Regions from separate parts of the Homo sapiens genome. Here region 2 is reported to be linked to region 1. Evidence: microRNA targets listed by miRTarBase, many of them from high-throughput screens and not tested one by one. Region 1 holds a microRNA gene; the other region holds the end of a gene's coding sequence.

Region 1 (9,441 bases):
CGGTGGACGAGCTCCACTTCCTCTCCAAACACTTCGGGAGCACCGAGAGCATCACAGACGAGGATGGTGGCCGTCGCTCCCCAGCCGTGCGGCCCCGCTCACGGAGCCTCAGGTGGGCAGGCATCCCTCCTCCTTCGTACCAAGCTAGTGGTCTTAGGACTTGTGCTTAGAGAGACCCCTGTCCCCGCGAATAAAAGGGTTACATCTTGGGGCGGGGGCTCTCTGCGGGCTTGGAGGCAGAGGACTCGACAAAATGGGCTTCTCTCCCCGCAGCCCCGGGCGCTCCCCCTCCTCCTACGACAACGAGATCGTGATGATGAATCACGTCTACAAGGAGAGGTTCCCGAAGGTGAGGTGGGACCCGAGGCGGTCACGGGGTGACCAGGCGGCCTGCACTCTCGCTCGCCTTATCCCCGCGCGCCCCCTGGCGGCCTCGGTGCGCAGCGCAGGCTCCTGGCGGCCGCAGCCTTCGGGCACAGCCCCGCGCCCCTCCTCCGTCCCTCCCGCAGGCCACTGCGCAGATGGAGGAGAAGCTGCGCGACTTTACCCGCGCCTACGAACCCGACAGCGTTCTGCCTCTGGCCGATGGCGTGCTCAGCTTCATCCACCACCAGATCATCGAGCTGGCCCGGGACTGCCTGACCAAGTCCCGTGACGGCCTCATCACCACGGTCTACTTCTATGAATTGCAGGAGAACCTGGAGAAGCTCCTTCAAGACGTGAGTGCACGCGGAGGCCGGGCTGATCTCAGGCTCAGCACCGCCAGATTGTGCCCAATGCACCCCTTTCTTCACCCCACATACATTCAGGGAGCTCCTACCACGTTCCAGGCACTGGCGTGGAGCTGAGGACTCAGGGGTGGAAGTGGTCCCTTCCCTAGGTCTGACCGACTGAAGAGGCAGGAATTTCACCTCGCTCATTTCCCTTAGGTCTTTACTCAAATGTCACCTTTTCAGGTGGCTTCTTAGGCGGTCCCCAGTCATTTAAAATATTAAACTCGGCCGGGCTCGGTGGCTCAGGCCTGTAATCCCAGCACTTTGGGAGGCCGAGGGGGGCGGATCACGAGGTCAAGAGATCGAGACCATCCTGGCTAACACGGTGACACCCCGTCTCTACTAAAAACACACACACACACAAAATTAGCCGGGCGTGGTGGCGGACGCCTGTAGTCCCAGCTACTCGGGAGGCTGAGGCAGGAGAATGGCGTAAACCCGGGAGGCGGAGCTTGCAGTGAGCCGAGATTGCGCCGCTGTACTCCAGCCTGGGCGACAGAGCGAGACTCCGTCTCAAAAAATAATAATAGTAAATAAAATAAAATAAAATAAAATATTAAACTTAGCCGGGTGCGGTGGCTCAGGCCTGTAATCCCAGCACTCTGGGAGGCTGAGGCAAGTGGATCACCTGAGGTCAGGAGTTCGAGACCAGCCTGGCCAACATGGCGAAACCCCGTCTCTACTAAAAATACAAAAATTAGCTGGGCGTGGTGGTGGGCGCCTGTAATCCCAACTACTTGGGAGGCAGAGGCGGGAGAATCGCTTGAACCTGGGAGTCGGAGGTTGCGGTGAGCCGAGATCACACCATTGCACTCCAGTCTGAGCAACAAGAGTGAAACTCTGTCTCAAAAATAAATAAATAAATGAAATAAAATAAAATATTAAACTCTACTCACATTTATCACCCACTTTCTCCTCAGTTTCTCCTTGACACTCAGCACCATCCATCATACTGTGTATTTTTGCTTATTTTATTTCATGTCTATCCTTCTCCAATGTCAGCCCCATAGTTGGTGAGGGTGGGGGGGTGGAGTTGTCTGTTCTGTCCACTGCTGTGTCCCTGCTGTTTGGAACAATACCCAGCACACAGTAGGTACTCAATAAATGTTGGGTAAATTGATGCTTGAATGTCCCTTTGCAGTGGCATGCACCTGTAGTCCCAGCTAGCTACTTAGGAGGCTGAGATGGGAGGATTGCTTGAGGTCAGGAGCTTGAGACCAGCTTGGGCAACATAGCAGGACCCCATCTCTAAAACAATTTAAAAAATTTAAGCCAGGCGAGGTTGCTCACGCCTTTAATCCCAGCACTTTGGGAGGCTGAGGCGAGCAGATCACGAGGTCAGGAGTTTGAAACCAGCCTGGCCAATAAGGTGAAACTCTGTCTTTACTAAAAATACAAAAAAGTTAGCCGGGCTTGGTGGCACGTGCCTGTAATCCCAGCTACTCAGGAGGCTGAAGCAGGAGAATCGCTTGAATCCGGGAGGCAGTGGTTGCAGTGAGCCGAGGTTGCGCCACTGCACTCCAGCCTGGGCAACAGAGTGAGATTCTGTCTCAAAAAAAATAAAAATAAAAATAAAAATAATTAGCTAGGTGTAGTGGCACACACCTGCTGTCCCAGCTACTTGAGAGGCTGAGGCAGGAGGATCACTTGATCATTCATTAATTCCACCAATATTTATTTATTTATTTATTTTATTTTTTTTGGAGACAGAGTCTCACTCTATCCCACTGGGCTGGAGTGCAGTGGTGCGATTTTGGCTCACTGCAACCTCCACCTCTCAGGTTCAAGCCATTCTCCTGCCTCAGCCTCCCGAGTAGCTGGGATCACAGGCACCCACCACCATGCCTGGCTAATTTTTGTATTTTTAGTCGAGGCAGGGTTTCACCATGTTGGCCAGGCTGGTCTCTAACTCCTGACCTTAGGTGATCCACCTGCCTCTGCCTCCCAAAGTGCTGGGATTACAGGTGTGAGCCACCATGCCTGGCCCCCACCAATATTTATTAAGCACCTACTATGGGCCTGGCACTAGCCTAAAAGCTGGGAAATCAACTGGAAATAAAACAAAAATTCTTGTCTTTGGAGAGCTGACATTCTATTAATAGCAGGAAGAGACAGAAGATAAACAATAGGCGTTAGAAGCTAACCCCTGTAATCCCAGCACTTTGGGGAGCTGAGACAGGAGGCTTTCTGGAGCCCAGGAGTTGCAGACCAGCCTGGGTAACATAGCGAGACCCTGTCTCTACAGTAAAACAAGTCAAACAAACAAAGACCCAATAGGTATTAGGGCTGAGACCAGGACCAGGGTAAAGCAAGTAATTATTTCTTCCCCCAGAACATTAAATTAATTTTTGAAAAACTTGAAAAGTAGATAAATGAAAACCCAACATTATTTTAAGTTTACATATTTTATTTATAACCAAGCCAGAATGTGTTATAATTTTACTGTCCTGGTTTTAATGAAAGCAAACTCATCAATAATACTATTTTCATTGAAACCATTAGACATTTTCAAAGACACATTAAAACACATATAGGTTGGTGCATACTTTTTTTTGGCTCAAGTTACAATATGGCTAGGCACAGCCTGTTGGATTCTGTCTTTATTTAATTTTCTTTTTCTTTTTCTTTTTCATTTGAGATGGAGGACTCTCTATGTTGCCCAGGGTGGTCTTGAACTCCTGGGCTCAAGCAATCCTCCTGCCTCAGCCTCCTGAGTAGCTGGGATTATAGGCATGTACCACCACATCTGGCTTAAATTTTGATATTTTGGCTTATGATAGATTTTTGGCATTAATTTTAGGCTTTTCAAGTATTGCAATAAGATATTAGTTTTTTCTTTTCTTTTTTTTTTTTTTTGAGACAGTCTCACTCTGCTACCCAGGCTGGAGTGTAGTGATGTGATCTCGGCTCACTGCAACCTCCACCTCCCTGGTTCAAGCGATTCTCTTGCCTCAGCCTCCCAAGTAGCTGGCATTACAAGTGTGTGGCACTATACCCAGCTAATTTTTGTACTTCCAGTAGAGATGGGGTTTTGCCATGTTGGGCAGGCTGGTCTCAAACCCCTGACCTCAAGTAATTCACCCTCCTCTGCCTCCCAAAATGCTGGGATTACAGGCGTGAGCCACTGTGCCCGGCCTCTTTTTCTTTTCTTTTTTTCTTTTTTTTTTTTTGAGACAGGGTCTCTCTCTCTGTCACCCAGGCAGGAGTGCAGTGGTATAATCAGCTCACTGCAGCCTTAGCCCCCTGGGCTCAAGTAATTCTCCCACTTCAGCCTCCCAGGTAGCTAGGACTACAGGCACACACTACCACACCTGGCTAATTTTATTATTTGTAGAGACAGGGTCTCGCTATGGTTTTGTTGTTTGTTTGTTTGTTTGTCATTGCTTTTGTTTTGAGACAGAGTCTCGCTGTGTCACCCAGGCTGGAGTGCAGTGGTGTGATCTTGGCTCACTGCAACTTCTGCCTCCCAGGTTCAAGGGATTCTCCTGCTTCAGCCTCCCAAGTAGCTGGGATTACAGGCACCTGCCACCACGCCTGGCTCATTTTGCGTTTTTAGTGGAGATGGGGTTTCACCATGTTGGCCAGGCTGGTTTCAAACTTTTGACCTCAAGTGATCCACCCACCTCAGCCTCCCAAAGTGCTGGGATTACAGGCATGAGCCACCGTGCCCAGCCTCATTATTTTTACTGTGTGGCTTGGGCTTCAGTCTCCTCACCTGTAAGATGGGACAGTAGCAGCAGTATGTACTCTGAGGGGCTGAGAGAGGGGCCGGGCTGAGGCAGAGTGCCTATGAGCCCTGTCCCTCTGTGTCCCCTGCCACAGGCCTATGAACGCTCTGAGAGCTTGGAGGTGGCCTTCGTTACTCAGCTGGTGAAGAAGTTGCTTATTATCATCTCACGCCCTGCGAGGCTGCTGGAGTGCCTGGTGAGGGGGCTGGGCATGGGTAGGGGTGGGTTGGTAGACCCTGGGAGCCTGTGGTGAGCCCACTCCTGCCCTGCCTCAGGAATTCAACCCCGAGGAGTTCTACCACCTGCTGGAGGCGGCCGAAGGACACGCCAAGGAGGGCCACCTTGTGAAGACGGACATCCCCCGCTACATCATCCGCCAGCTGGGCCTCACCCGTGACCCCTTTCCAGGTGCCGGCTGGTGGGCGCAGGGGGACTGGGGGTGAGCAGGCCCAGAACCCAGCTCGTGCTCACTCTCAGTCCCTCCCTAGATGTGGTGCATCTGGAGGAACAGGACAGTGGTGGTTCCAACACCCCTGAGCAAGACGATCTCTCTGAGGTAAGGCTGGGTGGCTAAGCGGTCAGTACCCTGGTTCCTGGGAGGGCAGGGTGGGGCTCATCTCCGGCTTCTTTGCCCTCAGGCTTTGTGGATCTCTTGGTCCTACACTCTGAGCCTCAGTTTTCCCATCCATAAAATGGGATTAATAATAGCTCTTCCAGAGCCTGGCATGCTGGCTCATGCCTGTAATCCCAGCACTTTGGGAGGCCAAGGTGGGCAGATCACCTGAGGTCGGGAGTTCGAGACCAGCCTAACCAACATGGAGAAACCCCGTTTCTACTTAAAAAAAAAAAAAATGCAAAAATTAGCCAAGCCTGGTGGCACATGCCTCTAATCCCAGCTACTTGTGAGGCTGAGGCAGAAGAATCACTTGAATCCAGGAGGCAGAGATTGCTGTGAACTGAGATTACACCACTGCACTCCAGCCTGGGCAACAAGAGCGAAACTGTCTCAAAAAATAAAATAAAATAAAATAAAATAATTGCTCTTCCCCTGTGACCTCTTTGTCATGTTAAAATCCATGAAACATAAAATTTAATTTACTTTTTTAACCATTTTATTTTATTTTTATTTATTTATTTATTTATTTTTTGAGATGGAGTTTTGCTCTTGTTGCCCAGGCTGGAGTGCAATGGCACTATCTCAGCTCACCACAACCTCCATCTCCTGGGTTCAAGCAATTCTCCTGCCTCAGCCTCCCGAGTAGCTGGGATTACAGGCATGTAACACCACACCCGGCTAATTTTGTATTTTTAGTAGAGACTAAAATTTCTCCATGTTGGTCAGGCTGGTTGCAAACTCCCAATCTCAGTTGATCTGCCCATCTCGGCCTCCCAAAGTGCTGGGATTACAGGCATGAGCCACCGCGCCCGGCCTTTTTAACCATTTTAAAATGAACAATTCGGGGCCGGGTGCAGTGGCTTAGGCCTGTAATCCCAGCACTTTGGGAGGCCAAGGCAGGAGGATTGTTTGTGCTAAGGCATTTGAGACCAGCCTGGGCAGCATAAAAAATCAGCTGGGCGTGGTGGTGCACCCCTGTAGTCCCAGCTACTCGGGAGGCTGAGGTGGGAGGATCCTATGAGCCCAGGAAGTCAAGGCTTCAGTAAGCCATGATCACACCACTGCACTCCAGCCTGGGCAACAGGGTGAGACCCTGTCTTGAAAAATGAAATTAAAAATAATAAAGAATAGGCCAGGTGCAATGGCTTATGCATGTAATCCTAGTACTTTGGGAGGCCAAGATGGGTGGATCACTTGAGGTCAGGAATTCGAAACCAGCCTGGCCAACATGGTGAAACCCCATTTCCACTAAAAATACAAAAAAATTAGTTGGGCGTGGTGGCACATGCCTGTAATCCCAGCTACTTGGAAGGCTGAGGCAGGAGAATTGCTTGAACCCGGGAGGTGGAGGTTGGTGTGAGCCAAGATCCCACCACTGCACTCCAGCCTGGGCAACAGAGCGAGACTCTGTCTCAAAATAATAATAATAATAATAATAATAATAATAATAATAATGATTAATAGTAATAAATAAACAATTCTGCAGCATTTAGTAATTCACCATGCTGTACAGCCATTAGATCTATGTAGTTGCAGAACTTTTTTATCACCCCCAAAGGGAAACCTCACACCCATTACACACTCCCTCCTCATTCCTCCCTCCCTGCAGTCCCTGGCAACCACTAATCTATTTTCTCTCTCTGTGGAATTGCTTTTTCTGGATATTTCTTTTTTTTTTTTTTTTTGAGACAGAATTTCACTCTTGTTGCCCAGGCTGGAGTGCAATGGCGTGATCTCGGCTCACTGCAACCTCCGCCTCCCAGGTTCAAGCAATTCTCCTCCCTCAGCCTCCTGAGTAGCTGGGATTATAGGCATGCGCCACCACACCTGGCTAATTTTGTATTTTTAGTAAAGACAGGGTTTCACCATGTTGGTCAGGCTGGTCTCGAACTCCTGACCTCAGGTGATCTGCCTGCCTTGGCCTCCCAAAGTGCTGCGATTACAGGCGTGAGCCACATGCCTGGCCTTTTTCTGGATATTTCCTATAAATGGGATCGTATGCTCTGTGGCCTCTTATGACTGGCTTATTTCACTTAACATAACGTTTCTGAGGTTTATCCATGTTGTAGCTTGTGTCACTGCTTCATTCATTTTTATAGCCGAGTAATATTCCATTGAATGGTAGATGCATTCATCCACTGGTGAACATTGGGTTGTCCATCTTTCATCTGTTGTAAATAGTGCTCTTATGAATGTGGGTGTACAAATATTTGGCTGGACAACTGCTTTGAGTTATTTAGGATATACGTCTAGAGGTGGAATTTCTTGGTCATATGGTAGCTCTATGTTTAACTTATAGAGGAATCCTGCATGGGCTTTCGAGCAAGCTAACTGGCTGTATGTGTTAATGGCAGCTCAGCATGGGGAAAATTGCCAATTCTATTCCCAGGCCAGCCACACTTTGGCAGATGTTCCAGATGTCTAGTGGAGAGTCCTACCCCAATGGCCACACATGTGTTTTCTCTGAACTGCCTAGTATTTTTCAAAAATTTGGGCTGGGCCTGATGGCTCACGGCTGTAATCCCAGCACTTTGAGAGACTGCGGCGGGTGGATCACTTGAGGTCAGGAAGTCGAGACCAGCCTGGCCAACATGGTGAAACCCTGTCTCTACTAAAAAAATACATAAAATTAGCCAGGTGTGGTGGTGCCCACCCGTAATCCCAGCTACTTGGGAGGCTGAGGCAGGAGAACTGCTGGAACCAGGGAGACAAAGATTGCAGTGAGCCGATATCAAACCACTGCACTCCAGCCTGGGTGAGAGAGTGAGACTCCATCTTGAAAAAAATAAAAATAGATAAATAAAAGAAGCAAAATATAAAAATTGAAAGATTTTTGCTTCAAAATCTGGGTTTGGGCCTTCTCTTGAAAAATCAGAAGTTCTAGGGCTGGGTGTAGTGGCTCATGCCTGTAGTCCCAGCACTTTGGGAAGCCAAGGTGGCAGGATTGCTTGAGCCCAGGAGTTTGAAACCAGTCTGGACAACATAGCAAGACCCTGTCTCTACTTAAAAAAAAATAGAAGAAGAAGAAGTTCTAATAATACTGTGGTGGAACCAGCTGAGTGGGGGTGGTCCTGTGATATTGGGTACCTGCCCCTTCGTCATCCATGGCCTCCACCCTGGTCTACTGGCCCCTGAAGACGCTTAAGTTTGTAATCTTTATTTCAAATTGTGTCTATACAGTCACACAGATATATACACATACCTTTCCTTTATGTATATATTTAAAAGGAATCTCACAATATATGCCATTTGTTTAATTTTTTGAATAGGTAATGGAATGACATCACTCAAAATCTAAAACTCTAAAAAAAGGTATTTATCTCTCATTGTTTGTAGGATTCTGTTATTCCTTTTAATCAAACTTGTTAATTGAGTGATTCAAATCTTCCATCTCCCTATTCATTTATCTTGCCTGATTAATCTAATAGTTTCTGAGAGAAATGTGAAACCTTATTTTAAGCAAATTCTCCTTGTAATTCTGTCAATTTTTTTTTTTTTTTTGCCATTTTGGTTTTTATTTGATTATAGGTAAGAGTTCCATACAATAGTGTGCGAAGTATTGCAAACAATAAAGGAAAAATACAGCATAAGATACCTCTTACACTCTGCCCAATTCTGTCAATTTTTATGTCAGATATTTTTAGGCTACATTCTTTGGAGCATATAAGTTCAATATTTTTATATATCATAGATCTTTTTATGTAATATCTATGTAATAAATCTCTTTGTCCCTAAGAAAAATCAAAATAATTTTCAAGAAAGATATACAGTGAAAAAAATCTTACTCCTACCTTTTTTCCCCATTGCCCTATAGCCCTGAAATATGATTACATAGTTTTATTTTGCCACTTTTTTTTTTTTTTTTAGACAAAGTTCCACTCTTGTTGCCCAGGCTGGAGTGCAACAGTGTGATCTCGGCTCACTGCAACCTCTGCTTCCTGGGTTCAAGTGGTTCTCCTGCTTCAGCCTTCCAAGCAGCTGGGATTATAGGCAACCACCACCACGCCTGGCTAAGTTTTTGTATTTTTAATAGAGACAGGGTTTCACCATGTTGGCCAGGCTGGTCTCGAACTCCTGACCTTCAGGTGATCCACTTGCCTTGGCCTCCCAAAGTGCTGGGATTGCAGGTGTGAGCCACCACACCTGGCCTTTGCCACATTTTTTTGCACATAAACGTACAATACATATTGCCTATTGCATTTTTACACTTAATAAAATAGAGGACTTTCTAAATCCATAGACAGAGAGTTTCCTCATTATTTCTAACAGTGGCACAATGTTTCTTTATCTAACTACCCCACATGTGTTTGTTTGGCTAATTTAA
Region 2 (9,322 bases), not on the chromosome of region 1:
ACCCTGGTGTACCCACTGGAGCTCTATCCTGCCTTCTTTGGCTATTACTTCTTCAATTCCATGATGGGAGTTCTACAGCTGCTGCATATCTTCTGGGCCTACCTCATTTTGCGCATGGCCCACAAGTTCATAACTGGAAAGGTGAAGCCCTGTTCCCATTGTGTAGGCCTTACTACTCTCTACAACTTCCTGAACTCCCATCTTGCCAGTAACTCTCTAAAAAACTAGTGTGGAGCCCTGGGTATAACAGGAACAAGCCCTCAGAGAGAAGCAGTACTTAGGGGTTTGAGGATCTCATGTAATAACCCTTCTTGTCCCTTTTCCACAGCTGGTAGAAGATGAACGCAGTGACCGGGAAGAAACAGAGAGCTCAGAGGGGGAGGAGGCTGCAGCTGGGGGAGGAGCAAAGAGCCGGCCCCTAGCCAATGGCCACCCCATCCTCAATAACAACCATCGTAAGAATGACTGAACCATTACTCCAGCTGCCTCCCAGATTAATGCATAAAGCCAAGGAACTACCCCGCTCCCTGCGCTATAGGGTCACTTTAAGCTCTGGGGAAAAAGGAGAAAGTGAGAGGAGAGTTCTCTGCATCCTCCCTCCTTGCTTGTCACCCAGTTGCCTTTAAACCAAATTCTAACCAGCCTATCCCCAGGTAGGGGGACGTTGGTTATATTCTGTTAGAGGGGGACGGTCGTATTTTCCTCCCTACCCGCCAAGTCATCCTTTCTACTGCTTTTGAGGCCCTCCCTCAGCTCTCTGTGGGTAGGGGTTACAATTCACATTCCTTATTCTGAGAATTTGGCCCCAGCTGTTTGCCTTTGACTCCCTGACCTCCAGAGCCAGGGTTGTGCCTTATTGTCCCATCTGTGGGCCTCATTCTGCCAAAGCTGGACCAAGGCTAACCTTTCTAAGCTCCCTAACTTGGGCCAGAAACCAAAGCTGAGCTTTTAACTTTCTCCCTCTATGACACAAATGAATTGAGGGTAGGAGGAGGGTGCACATAACCCTTACCCTACCTCTGCCAAAAAGTGGGGGCTGTACTGGGGACTGCTCGGATGATCTTTCTTAGTGCTACTTCTTTCAGCTGTCCCTGTAGCGACAGGTCTAAGATCTGACTGCCTCCTCCTTTCTCTGGCCTCTTCCCCCTTCCCTCTTCTCTTCAGCTAGGCTAGCTGGTTTGGAGTAGAATGGCAACTAATTCTAATTTTTATTTATTAAATATTTGGGGTTTTGGTTTTAAAGCCAGAATTACGGCTAGCACCTAGCATTTCAGCAGAGGGACCATTTTAGACCAAAATGTACTGTTAATGGGTTTTTTTTAAAAATTAAAAGATTAAATAAAAAATATTAAATAAAACATGGCAATAAGTGTCAGACTATTAGGAATTGAGAAGGGGGATCAACTAAATAAACGAAGAGAGTCTTTCTTATGCCTTCCTTGCAGTTATGTAATATTTTCTTTTTTAAATTTCACATGCATGTAATTTGAGCACTTTGAGGGGCCAAGGAGGGTGGATCACTAGAGGTCAGGAGTTTGAGACCAGCCTGGCCAACATGGCGAAACCCCATCTCTACTAAAAATACATCTAGCTGGGTGTGGTGGCGGGCGACTGTAATCTCAGCTACTTAGGAGGCTGAGGCAGGAGAATCACCTGAACCCGGGAGGCGGAGGCTGCAGTGAGTCGAGATTGCACCATTGCACTCCAGCCTGGGTGACAGAGCGAGAACTCCATCTAAAAAAATTCACATGCAAGAAGCAAAGGTAGACAAGGTAGAAGATGAATGACAGCAGCCCACAGGGGAGGATGGGGATAATACCTCACTGAAAGATCCAGAATTGGGAGTATCGGGCTGAGAGAGAGAAACAAAACCACAATCTTAGTTTTATCATATTGTTAAAAGACTTTCAAGAAATAATACAAACTGGAGATAGTAGATACACAGGCTCCATTCTAAGAACAAAGTCTGTTAGAAGCAGGAACACTTGGACAAATATGGGATGGGAGGGATGTCAGGCCGAGGTTAGAGTGGTGATCTCTCCCCACCCTTTAGGGCCTTTGGAGGTGGAGAAGGGATCCTGCCTGCTAGCACCACATTGGAAGGGATCATCTGGTCCAGAACCCCCATTTCTATCAACTAGGAGCTGGGGGGAGTAGCTAGCCCAGAGACTTCGGGTCAGGGTTCAACAATCAGGAAGACCCAGTTCCTGAGGAAACGACAGTTCAAGAAGGGTTGGGAAGAAGGCTGTCCTCTAAAGAAGACGTCCTCTGCATTCAATGGCCCCACAGCAACAGAGTAGCTCCTTGCCTTCCACACTGCCCACCTCGTAGTTGTAGTCCCAAGTAAGTTCTGTCCCAGCCCGGATTCTTCTGAAGAGGAAGAAAAGGATGGTGTGTGGCAAAGACAGCAGATAACCCAGGCACTTGGGGTTACTGAATATGTAGGTGGAGTTGGATCATGAATGGAGGAGGGGCCCTTAGAACTTCAGTGGTCCTTGCCCCTCCCCAGTCATCCCCTTTCCTGACTCCTTACTTGCTGGCAAAGAAGGCCACCCAGGGGAAGCGAAGATCATGGGTATCCACGAAGACATTCTGGACAAACAGGTTGGGGCTGCAACTGTGCTGTAGGTTTAAGGACAGGATCAAATAAGAACCAGGGAAACTGAACCTGGCTTTGCAGGGAGAGTGAGAGTTGGAAGAAAAATGATGCCATCTGACCCTCCCCATTATAATAGATGCTTTGAAAGAAAGCTACCTCTTTAAGATCCTTTGAGATCAAGAGTTTATAACAAGAAAAGGGCTTATAGAGTATGTTAAAAGAAATCTGAGGACCATGGGATAATCCAGCATCTAGAGGTGGGGAGAGGGGTCTCACGTTGAGGTAGCGGCCCAGGTTGCCTTCAAGCTTGGCATCAATGATGTAGCAAGACTCCTCGCCATCATAGAATTGGCGTGTGTTCTTACGAACAGGTGCGCTCTCCCCCTTGTCCACAGAGGCCATGTTGGTTGATTTAATTGCAATCCCATGGGTTGATTTAAGAGCAAAGCCTCGGGTTGATTTTACTGCCACTTGACGCTTCATTGGACCTGGACAGGAGGGAGAATGGGGTCAGGACCCATCCCAACTCATGAACAGACATTCTATCATGAATGGACATTCTACCCCTATTTCTCTCCCAACATTGCAGCTGAGAAACACCAATAAGCTGGAACTCAAAGATCCTAAGTAGCAGGTTTTTTTTTCAAGCATAATTAGATCTGCTAGACAAAGGAGCTGAGGGGAAAGAGTAAAAAAATGGAAATGAGAGAGGATGTGTCAAACAATAGTTTAGCTTGGAGTCAGAAAGCCCTCCCAGAGATGCTCCAATTCTTAGGATCTGAATTTTTACCCACTACTTCTTTAGCTTCCTTAAAAAATGCTCTATCCCAAGTTTCTTACTATTTCTTCCCACCATTCCCAAAATTTTTCCAGGCTACCAGTCATGTTCTTCTTGTCCTCAAAGTCATCCCCTTCAGAGCCAGAGGATATGGTCTGGATATCATCACTGTCAACCGCTGTAGCCGAAGTCTGACCAGCAGTGGGCTTTCGGCTGGTCCCACTTTCCCCCTCACTTTCTGTGCTGCTGGACAGTGTCAGGACATCCTGGGGAAGCAGGAGGGTAAGAAGTAAGAGAAGTAAATGGGAAGGGCTCCTTTAAGTCCTTGCTGTTACCCACGGTTTGGCAGGAAAGGGCGGTGGCAAGAGGAAGATTAGATGCTGGATGAAAGAAAATAAGGCAGGAAGTCAAGGCTAAAGAAGTAGGAGAAGACCTAACAGTAATTATAGTGAAGGACTTGATGAGGTGACAATGGCCCATTTTCCTTTATTAGACTCTGAATAAGCTTGAGGTGACTTACATCAGGGTTGGACTGAGCAGAAGCCATGAGTCTTCGGCTTTGATGCATACTAGTCTTACTAGGTGGGCGGCGAAGTCCTTCAGGCTTCACAGGAGAAGGATTGTAACCGTAATTTCGAGAGCTTTCAGTAACTCTAATGGGAGGGGAAGGAATGAAGCCAACAGGTTACTGGCTGTTTCTTAGGCTTCTAGCCTAGGTTTGAGAGAAGGCAGATTTGGAGACAGGTCAAAAAGACAGGCACTGGGCTGGACACGGTAGCTCATGGCTGTAATCCCAGCACTTTGGGAGGCTGAGGATCCCCTTTGGGAGCATCGCTTGAGCCCAGGAGTTCAAGACCAGTCTGGGAAACATGGTGAAACCCCGTGTCTACAAAAAATACAAAAACTAGCCAGGCATGGTGGTGCACACCCGTAGTCCCAGCTACTAGGGAGGCTGAGGTGGGAGAATCTCTTGAGCCTGGGAGGGGGAGGTTGCAATGAGCTGAGATTACGCCACTGCACTCCAGCCTGGGTGACAAAGCAAGACTCTGTCTCAAAACAAAACAAAACAAAAGGCACTTACACTGACATCTTGTTTCGGTCGTCAGTGTCCTGGAAAAGAACAAGTGAAGGGTTAAATGCTTTCACAGCCTCGGGTAACAAGTCCAATAATCAGACTTCAAATGACCTCCACAGATAACATCAGCCAGTGACAGGTACACATTCTAAAGTGGGGTGGGTAAACCACTCTGCAACTTGACAGAAATCCTCACTACACTCCCTGGCTGGAGCCTTTAAGCCTTCTCAGTGATGGGGCTTAATGCTCATGGAAAACACCACGAGCAGGATTACATCAACCAGGGACAGTTTCACCATCTGTAATGTGGAAAGCAGCATAATCATCAAAGAGATACTTAAAATCAATTCTTGTTTCTCTACTTTAGTAGAAGGAAACAATGATGTGAATAACTTGAAACAGCATTTAACATTAAAAAATCACTTATAAATCTTTCATTTTGTAATTAATCAGATACTTGTCCACCCTCTACCACCAGGCAAGTGGATTTTAAAATAATTTTTTTTTTTTTGAGACAGAGTCTCGTTCTGTCACCCAGGCTGGAGTGCAGTGGTGCGATCTCGGCTCACTGCACCTCCACCCTCCAGGTTCAAGCGATTCTCCTGCCTCAGCCTCCCAAGTAGCTGGAAATACAGGCATGCACCACCACGCCCGGCTAATTTTTGTATTTTTTAGTAGAGACGGGGTTTCACCATGTTGGCCAGGATGGTCTCCAACTCCTGAACTTCAAGTTATCCACCTGCCTCGGCCTCCCAAAGTGTTGGGATTACAGGTGTGAGCCACTGTGCCCGGTCAATAATTTGGTTCTTTAAACAAACACTAGGAATGTGCTAGTTAGGGGGAGAGATAACGAGGTGGCCACAGAAATATCCATCAAGTAGAATAATCTACATGCAAAGACTCATGGTGAGACTGCATTGTTACTGCACCAAAGTTAAAGCCATAGCTCTCAGAGTGTTCTGCCACTGCTTACCTCTTTCTTGGCCTGTTTGATGTCTCCCTCATCCTTGATGCCTAGTCCTGAGGTGGAGGCCTTCTCAGCCTCCATTCGGCTTCCCCCAGCCCGGCCCTCCCCACCTTCATTAGTCTTGAAGGATGAATGGCTATCAGAGTCAGCAAAACCACCTTCACTGACACTATTGCAGCTCAACCATGAGGCCACCTTGTTCTTGGGTGTCTCTTCGGAGGAAGGTGGATTGCAGCCACCTACAGGGATTGAGGGAGGAACAGGAATATGTGGGGGTCCAAGATCTGGGGGGTGGGAGTCCTTGGAAGTTGTCTCAGAGAGTCCGTTCTCTTTCTGGCCCCGGGTCTGCCTCCGGGTAGCATAGCTCCGCCACACTGAACTGGTGCTGAAGTCCTCATCCTTACAGAAGTTATCATCTGAGCTATCATCATTGGACTCTTCAGGGTCCTCTGTACCGCTGTTGCCATCTTCCTGGTCCTTCAAGTCTACACCACTGCTGTCAGAGGAACAGGGGGCATCACTCTCATATCCTTCTTTGAAGTTCTCCACGCTCTCGATATGGTCCAGATTTGCAAAGTACTCATCACCCATTTCCAGACCCTCCTTGTCTGCAAAGTCATCTGTCAGGATTTTGCCTGAGAATGAAGAGAATTAAAGGCCTTCTAGGGTTATGGGGACCTATTAGTTTTTTTTTTTGTTTGCTTTTTTTTTTTTTTTTTTCCAGATGGAGTCTTGCTCTGTCACCCAGGCTGGAGTGCAGTGGCGCGATCTCGGCTCACTGCAACCTCTGCCTCCCAGGTTCAAGTGATTCTCCTGCCTTAGCCTCCTGAGTAGATAGGACTACAGGTGCACGCCACCATGCCTGGCTAATTTTTTTTGTATTTTTGGTAGAGATGGCGTTTCACCATGTTGGCCAGGTTGGTCTCGAACTCCTGACCTCAGGTGATCTGCCCGCCTCAGCCTCCCACAGTGTTGGGATTACAGGTGTTAGCCACCGCACCCGGCCACGGGGACCTATTAGAAAGAATAAGGATTATTCCATCAATACCCGCTCTACCAGCATATAGAGTCAAAAAGCCTCCATTCTGGTCTCTCATTTCTGTTTTTTTTTTTGTTTTGTTTTTGAGACAGAGTTTCGCTTTTGTCACCCAGGCTGGAGTGCAGTGGCATGATCTCGGCTCACTGCAATCTCTGCCTCAAGGGTTCAAGTGATTCTCCTGCCTCAGCCTCCCAAGTAGCTGGGATTACAGGCATCCACCACCACACCTGGCTAATTTTTGTATTTTTAGTAGAGATGGGGTTTCAACTATGTTGGCCAGGCTGGTCTCCAACTCCTGACCTCAGGTGATCCACCCACTTCGGCCTCCCAAAGTTTTGGGATTACAGGCATGAGCCACCACGCCGGCCCAGTGTTTCTCTTTGATAATACCTCCCTTTGTATCTTAACTATGAAAGTATGGAGAACTTACTGTCATTTTAAATCTTGCCCTTTCTGTCTTTCCATTTCTTCTACTTTATTGAAACAGAGTACTGGGCTATGCTAAAAGATCTCTGAGTGGAGTGACATGGGAGAAAATGATACACTGGACTCTATAATCATGTCTGTTCTCTGAAATATCACCATGTCCAAAATTTCATCCCTTTTCATTCTCTTATTTGTGAAACACTTGTGTCCCTCTCTGGTCTAGCTAGACAGGTACATCACTCATCACGTTCTTTGTAGAAGTCCCTGGCCTCCTCTTACTCCAGTTCACATGTCAAGCACTTTCTTCTTATGTTCAATTTGTCTCTGGTTCAATTCCCTACCATGTCCCAGTCTCAGGAAACAACCCTTATATTTTATCACCAACCTGCATAAATACAAACAAAAGAGCCTTTGGCAATGTCATCCAAGCAGCGGATACCCCAGCCCTTGTTCTGTGTCTTGAATAGCTGTAGCCGAACTTGTAGTCCATGTTGCACCAACCGGTTTGTGCACATGTTTGGGTCACATTTGCAGCGTTTGTTACACTCATATACCCTGGGAGGAGGTTAGAATAAAATCAATCACGGTATGATCACTAGAGCACAAAAAAATCCATAAAACTATTATAATTCTTAAGCTATCATCATTTATAATGTGTTGTGGATAAAGATTAAAAATTAGGTAATGATCTAAGTGAGTGGATCTATTGAACCATCTATGCTCTTTGATTCATTTGGAAATGTAGCCCAAGGAAAAAATTTAGAGGGCGGAGAAATATTTATAAAGATGTCTATAGCAAGACAGCTCATAAAAGTGAATGCTAGAGTGCCTAACACCTGGAGAAAAGCTAAGTAAACTATAATGGGAATACAGATTACAGAGCCATTAAAATAAGCACTATATGGACGGTCAATTTGTAGAAATAGATGCACAAAATAAAGACATGTGAGAAATTCCTGGTGAGGTTTCTTACTAACAACAGCAAAAATAATAATAATAATAAAAATAAATAAATGTGAGAAAAACAGAGGCCAACATAACAGATACGAAAGGGAATAAAGAGATAGGAGGAACTGTGACTAATGTTCATGGTAAAGTTGATTTTCATTCTTTCATTCAGTAAACAATTATTAAACACCAAGAGCTCTACTAAACACTGGAAACATAACAATGAAAAAGATCGTGCTGGGCGTGGTGGCTCATGCCTATAATCCCAGCACTTTGGGAGGCCAAGGTGGGTGGATCACGAGGTCAGGAGAGTGAGACCATCCTGGCTAACACAGTAAAACCCCGTCTCTAATAAAAATTAAAAAATTAGCCGGGTGTGGTGGCATGCATCTGTAGTCCCAGCTACTTGGGAGGCTGAGGTAGGAGAATTCCTTGAACCCAGGAGGCGGAGGTTGCAGTGAGCCAAAATCAAGCCACTGCACTCCAATCTGGGCGACAGGGTGAGACTCTGTCACAAAAAAAAAAAAAAAGAAAAAAGAAAAAAAAGAAAAAAAAAAAGGTCATAATTTCTACCCTCAGGGAGCTCTTTTTTTTTTTTTTGGAGACAGAGTTTCGCTCTCATTGCCCAGGCTGGAGTGCAATGGCGCAATCTCAGCTCACAACCTCCACCTCCCGTGTTCAAGTGATTCTCCTGCCTCAGCCTCCCAAGTAGCTGAGATTACAGGCACGCGCCACCGTGCCTTGCTAATTTTGTATTTTTAGTAGAGATGGAGTTTATCCATGTTGATCAGGCTGGTCTCGAATTCCCGACCTCATGTGATCCGCCTGCCTTAGCGAACCAAAGGGCTGGGAGTACAGGTGTGAGCCACCGTGCCCAGCCCAGGGGAGCTCATATTCTATCTAATTTAAGAATTTGGGCCAGGCGCAGTGGCTCATGCCTGTAATCCCAGCTACTGAGGATGCTGAGGTGAGAAGATCACTTGAGCTCAGGAGTTCGAGGTTTCAGTGAGCTATGATCATACCACTGCGCTCCAGCCTGAATGACAAAGCAAGTCCACCCCATCTCTGAAAAAGAAAAAAATTTTAATTATTTTTAAACAACCATTAAAGGTAATCAGAGGGATCTAGCACATACCAACATTAAAGGAAGATAACACAGTTATACTAAGAAAACTAATTGTTTCAGGTAACAATGTTTTTGCTCTATTTGCCCAGTGTTAGAATTTTACTTATTTTCTTGGTATGTAAAATCAATGGAAGAAATTTACTTTGGAAATGTATCAACAGCTCAGTTAGTTCACGATTTTAGTCATATCCTCTCTCCAGATAAAGATGGTAAGAGCAGCTTCTAGTTACTAAGCATATACTTTTGTGTTTGGCATTGTGTGAATGCCTTATATATACATATTCTATCCTTAAAGCTGCCCTAATACAGGTGGTGTTTTTTCTTTTTGAGACACAGTCTCGCTTTGTCGCCCAACCTCCGCTTC

Evidence for each region. Region 1 holds the annotated microRNA hsa-miR-6794-5p (CAGGGGGACUGGGGGUGAGC, at 4,927-4,946, shown strand). A microRNA usually pairs through its seed, bases 2 to 8, with sites in the 3' UTR of a target mRNA and lowers its output. Matches are read on the target gene's strand: a 7mer-m8 pairs with bases 2 to 8, a 7mer-A1 pairs with bases 2 to 7 and ends in A, and an 8mer does both.
Region 2: the mRNA of CERS2 is a reported target of hsa-miR-6794-5p. Seed matches in the 3' UTR shown: 7mer-m8 at 1,142-1,148.

The regions. Positions count from the first base shown.
Region 1 is chr19:12,847,339-12,856,779 of GRCh38, forward strand. MIR6794 (microRNA 6794) reads left to right here and starts at 4,922; the gene lies at 4,922-4,989. MAST1 (microtubule associated serine/threonine kinase 1) reads left to right here. Exons shown (of 26, transcript NM_014975.3): 5 at 1-112; 6 at 274-349; 7 at 510-719; 8 at 4,596-4,697; 9 at 4,777-4,909; 10 at 4,990-5,057. RefSeq lists a cis regulatory region at 173-673, a silencer at 346-525 and enhancers at 395-1,218, 4,851-5,351.
Region 2 is chr1:150,957,295-150,966,616 of GRCh38, reverse strand. It overlaps CERS2 (ceramide synthase 2), which reads left to right. Exons shown (of 11, transcript NM_022075.5): 10 at 1-141; 11 at 329-1,431. The coding sequence ends at 469. It overlaps SETDB1 (SET domain bifurcated histone lysine methyltransferase 1), which reads right to left. Exons shown (of 22, transcript NM_001366418.1): 15 at 7,270-7,439; 16 at 5,426-6,054; 17 at 4,459-4,487; 18 at 3,898-4,030; 19 at 3,478-3,643; 20 at 2,876-3,087; 21 at 2,534-2,622; 22 at 1,880-2,370. The coding sequence ends at 2,253. Among named protein-coding and RNA genes, the nearest start is that of CERS2, 13 kb to the left of the region's middle. RefSeq lists cis regulatory regions at 1,128, 1,764 and enhancers at 1,055-1,199, 1,692-1,836.